Regions from separate parts of the Homo sapiens genome. Here region 1 is linked to region 2. The links come from fine-mapping of genetic effects on gene expression. Tissue or cell type: whole blood. Region 2 holds a variant in brackets; the other region holds the start of a gene. All regions are shown on one strand. Distances are between the middles of the regions.

The links. PIP is the estimated chance that this variant, and not a neighbour inherited with it, causes the effect.
Region 1: ELOVL5 starts here. The variant in region 2 is fine-mapped to the expression of ELOVL5 in whole blood (TOPMed, PIP 0.91).

The regions. Positions count from the first base shown.
Region 1 is chr6:53,347,850-53,350,520 of GRCh38, forward strand. It overlaps ELOVL5 (ELOVL fatty acid elongase 5), which reads right to left and starts at 1,101. Exons shown (of 8, transcript NM_021814.5): 1 at 968-1,101. RefSeq lists a silencer at 502-941.
Region 2 is chr6:53,243,581-53,246,425 of GRCh38, forward strand. It overlaps LOC124901332 (a long non-coding RNA gene), which reads right to left. Exons shown (of 4, transcript XR_007059612.1): 2 at 1,961-2,032; 3 at 691-851; 4 at 465-564. Among named protein-coding and RNA genes, the nearest start is that of MIR5685, 32 kb to the right of the region's middle. The variant G/A (reference allele first, on the strand shown) is at 1,568.

The DNA.
Region 1 (2,671 bases), 100 kb after region 2:
AACGGTTGCAAGACGCAGTTCAGCAAGAACAACTCTTGCTCTAGGCATTGCTCCGTCGACCCGAGGTGGTGGGGTGGGAGAGTCTTACCGGCGTGGAAACAGTAAAAAGGCACTTTTCCTTACAACTCGCAAGACAACACACACTCTAGCTCCCCCGGCGCAGAGCACAACCGCCCCCCCGCCGCGCGCCTCCCTCGCAGCCAACCGCTCCCGCCTCTCCAGGGATCAGGCTCCCAGAAAGGGCCGCCCCGGTCGCCCCCGAGTCCCCGCCCTCTCGCTTTCCCACCAGCCTCATCCCTCCCTGAGTACCAAGGGCTGCCGTTGTCTGGTTTCAATAAAAACTGAAGCGGTCCCGAGCTAGCAGGCTTCCCTCCGAGGGGCGGACGGAAGGTCCGCAGGGTTAACGGAAGCGGAGAGAACAGGACAAAAAGGAAAGGCCGGAGAGTCCCCCCAGCGGCGCCCGGTGCCCGCAGACCCTCGCACAGGCTCTTCGAACTCACCCGGGTTTCGCCGACTCCAAAGAAAGCGCGCTCCCTCCGAGAGCGCTCCCCCGGCTCTCCCGCCGCGCGCTCCGGCCCGCAGGGCGGGAGGACCCAGGCGGACAGATCCATCCCTCCGCGTCTGGTGTGGGCACGGTGTCGTGCCCCGCGGCGCCTGTCAGCGCGCACAGGTGGGACCGCAGCACAGAGAACGCTCCCGAGCGCCCTGCCTCAGCCTCGGCGTGGGGCGAGCCGCCCGCGCCCGCACCCGCACCCCTTTCCCCGCGCCCGAGGAGCCGGGCTGTACCCCGGAGCCGGCGGAGCTGGAGGCCGCGGGCGGAGCGCGGGTTGCCCCGGCAGCTCTTTCTCGGCACCAGGTCCGAGACCTAACGGCAGTTCTCTCTGACCGCTTCCCGGCCGCGCGCTCGCGCGGGTGTCATGGCCGAGCGGCGGCCCCCGACGAAGTTTCCCGGAGCTGACGGCTTTACCTTTTAGCCCAAGGGGCGGCAGCAGCTTTGAGCAGCAGCAAGGCGGCGGCGGCGGAGGGAGCGCGGGTGGCAGCCGGCGCAGAGGCGGATGTAGAAGGAGACACCGGTGGCTAGGACCCGCGCGATGGGAAGAGGAAGGCGCCGGCTATCTACAATCAGAACGTGGGCTGACCGTGACGTCACAATGGCGCGGCCAGCCAATCGGGACCCGAAGGATGAATCAAGCGCTATGATGTCATGCGGCCCGGGAGCCAATCGCGGGACAATAGAACTTTCGTGATCGTAAATTCCAGAATCCGATGCGGTGGAGAGCCTAGGCCGGGGTTGGCCCCTCGGTTCCACGTGTCTCTGGGAAATTTTTTTCCCCTTTCTTCCTAATAAGCCTGCGTGGAACGCAGAGCCTGCGCAATAGCCCCGGTGAAGTTGTCGATGCCCTGAACTCTGGTTTTTTTACTGCCAGGCGTGGCAGGAGTCTGTGGCCGCATTTGGGTGGCAGAAGCCCACCCTCGTTACGGTCTCCTCTATGAGTTATGTCATGCTGAAGGGGATCCACTTCATCGTTAAAGCTGAAAGGGTTAAATGCCCACGGAGACCGCCGGAGTGAAGGTCTGCAGTTGAACAAGATAAAGGAACAAGAACAAAACGACTCAAAACTGTTGTAACCATAACTCCCTTGCAAAGGATTTACCGTGTATTTTTCTTAGGGATTCTGATTTTTCTTTGGAAGCCACTATCAACTCCATTTCTACTCTAGAAATTATTCTAAAGGATTGTTAAATGAGGAAAGATGGAATCAGTGTCTTTTCAGCTAAGCATATTTAAGCACTTAAGACAAAGGGGGTTCAGGGCATAAACGGAAGATCCTTGCTGTTTTTCACTGATATTTGGATAATTAAAGACCTTCATTAGCTTTGTATCCTACTGTTTCCCCATTCAAACCCCAGAGATTTAGCCTTTCTTCGTGTGCCCCTCTTGCTGTATTCTTACTCCTCTATGTGCATCCACCTAACAGTCGGCTATTTAATGTAGGCAAATTTATTCTTTTTTTTCTTTTTTTTTCTTTTTTGAGACAGAGTCTCGCTCTGTTGCCCAGGCTGGAGTGCAGTGGCGCGATCTCAGCTCACTGCAACCTCCACCTTCCGGGTTCAAGCGATTCTCCTGCCTCAGCCTCCCAAGTAGCTGGAATTACAGGCACGCGCCACCACACCCGACTAATTTTTGTATTTTTAGTAGAGATGAGGTTTCGCCATGTTGGCCAGGCTGGTCTCGAACTCCTGACCTCAGGTAATCCGCTCGCCTCAGCTTGCCAAAGTGCTGGGATTACAGACGTGAGTCACCGAGCCTGGCCGGCAAATTTATTCTTTTACATATTTACAATGTAATGCTTATCACGTGCCAGCTGTGTTCCAGGCAGTGGGCCATTGCAATAGGAATGCAAGTATACAAACCATGTACAAATTAAGTAAATTAAACATATACAAAGAATCGAGATTGTCAGTTGCCATTGAGCTCCACAAACACTGAATGACTTCAATTTGCTAGATACTATGTTAGGTATTCAAAATTTGAAACCTTCAAGGACTTCTTGGGCCTGGAAAATGATACAGTCAGGAAGCAACTACAATGCAGAGTGGTAAATGCTGCTATGGACATCAAGGGACATGAGAAAAGCATATGCTGGTGGCATAGACTATTTTTTTGAGA
Region 2 (2,845 bases):
AAGGAGCACCAGGAGGGCTTGCTGAAACACCAGTTGCTGGGCCCCACCCCTGGAGTCTCAGGTTCAGCAGGTCTAGGGCGAGGTCGGAGGATGTGCACTTCTAATACGTTCCCAGGTGGTGCTGAGGCTGCTGGTCTGGGGGCCACATTGAGAAACACTGACTTGAATGACTTGATGCTGTTGCTGGCCTGCTTTGTAAACTTCTTAGACCCTATCCAGTAATTGCCTTTCTTTTCTTTTCTTTTCTCTTTTCTTTTTCTTTTTTTTTTTTTTTGAGACAGAGTTTCACTCTTGTTGCCCAGGGTGGAGTGCAATGGTGATATCTTGGCTCAGTGCAACTTCCGCCTCCTGGGTTCAAGTGATTCTCCTACCTCAGCCTCCAAAGTAGCTGCGATTACAGGCATGTGGCACCACACCTGGCTAATTTTTTTGTATTTTTAGTAGAGACAGGGTTTTACCATGTTGGCCAGGCTGGTCTCGAACTCCTGACCTCAAGTGATCCACCCATCTCAGCCACCGCACCCAGCCAGTAATTGCCATTCATAAAGAAAGCCAAGATGACACCTACAGAGCAAAATTATGTGATATTCAGGAATAAACACTGAAACATTATTTTGATTAGAATAATAGCTGCACGGAACAGAAACTTAGCTATAAGAGCTTAAGCAAATAACAGTTTGTTTTTCTTACATTCCCAAGAAGACTAGAAGCTGTGATAGGCTGGTGAAATGACTTCACCTCATCAGGGGTCAAGGCTCTTGCTAACTTTCTCTTCTGTCATCCTTGGTAAATGATCTTTGTCCTCATGGTCACAAGATGGCTGCTGCATCTCCATGTATTGCCTCTGCACTCTAGGCAGGAAAATGAATGATGAAGAAAAATGCATGTATGAGCTTTTCTGAAAGTCCCTCTAGAGACTTCTGTTCCCATCTCATGGGTTAGAACTATGTCACATGGCCACACCAAGCTTCAAGGGAGCCTCAGCACTCATTGACCCACATAAAATGGGGTTCCCGTCGATGAGAAAGGAAGGAAGAATGGGTGGTAATCAGCAGGCTCTGGGATGCACTCACCTGCTTGACTCCCAAAGGGTCACATTGCGTACTCAGGCCAGAGCCACCTACAGTGCTAAACCAGCCACGCAACAAGTGAAAGGGACAGAGAAAAGACATGAAGCCACTTCTGTACTAGCATTTCTTGCCTCCTGCTAATGGGTGTTATATGAAAAGGGAAAACTGAACTAGAACTTCTTTACTATAGACTTCTGAGAAGTTTTATTAAGCTTATGTATGTGATGACATTCCAAGGCAGGAACAAACATACTGCATTTTCCAAGCTTATTTGACCACAGAGGCTTTTTAAAAATTTTTCTGGAGCATCTCTCTGAACTACATTCCATGGAAATTTTTGCCAGAAAACCTTGATATATACAGTGTCAACTATCAGTGTGTTTTTTAAGACTCCTTACGAGAAAAAAAGCCAAGTATGTTCTTCTTACATCAGTGAGATAGTTCTACTTTTTTTAAGGGGAAGGAAATGAAAATAGGAACAGTTTGTGAGTCAGGGC[G/A]GGGGGTGTGATACCAGCCTGCCACCTGAGAACCATGCAACCTTGACAGGCCTGGTGGCCTCCCTAGAGTCTCCTGTGGTTTTTTTTTTTTTTTTTTTCTGTGAGACAGAGTCACCCAGGCTGGAGTGCAGTGGTGCGATCTCGGCTTACTGCAACCTCTGCCTCCCGGGTTCAAGTGATTCTCCTGTCTCAGCCTCCAGACTAGCTGGGATTACAGGTGCGTGCTACCACACCTGGCTGATTTTTGTATTTTTAGTAGAGATGGGGTTTCGCCATGTTGGCCAGGCTTGTCTTGAATTCCTGACCTCAGGTGATCCGCCCCCCCTTGGCCTCCCAAAGTGCTGGGATTACAGACATAATCTACCACGCCCGGCCAGAGTCTTCTGTTCTTACTTGCAAAACAAGATCTGTAGGCAAGCACCAGGATGCATCCCAATAAACCAAAATTCTGCAACTTCACAGCTCCTAGAAAGATCAAGAAGGGATGCCTGAATCAATCTTTGGTAATGGGAGATAGAGGATATATGCCCTCCTGTTGGGCGACAGAGTGAAACCCCGTCTCAAACACTGGAGATGGACTCTCGGGGTTTTGACATGTTGGCCAGGCTGGTCTTGAACTCCTGACCTCAGGTGATCCGCCTGCCTTGGCCTCCCAAAGTGCTGGGAGCACAGGTGTGAGCCACCACACCAGGCCTGGTTCTCCCCTTTTAAGGGCTCATGCATTCTATTAAGCTCACCTAGATAATTTAGGATAATCCCCCCATCTCATCACATCTGCAAAGTCCCCTTTGCCATATAAGGTAACATATCTACAAGTTCTAGGAATTAGGACATGGACATCTTGGGACTCATGGGCATTCTGTCTACCATGCAGATGAAATCTATTGTTTAAAGAAGTATAAACAGTGTTGGGAAACTGAAGACTATAACAAAAAATTCAAATTAGGCTTAATAGTATGTGAGACAAGCAGTACAAAAGGTAGAGAAGGTTTATGTGAGAAAAGAAAAGAAAAAAAAACCCAAGAAAGGAGATCAATTACAATACAAGCAAAAGTAGGACAACACTAGTTACGAGCTGGAAGCACGTGAATCCTTTAAGAGCCCGAGCAAAGGGCAAAGGTTTAGTATGGGATTGTTGGAGTTTCTTTCTATTATATATTGTACCTTCACCAATAGAACTAAAAGTCTAAAATCACACTATTTAAAAACCGAGAATGTATCAGCATTAACCAGATTGATCCTACAGGCGCTGCTTGACTTTCAGGTGTGGAGGTGGTA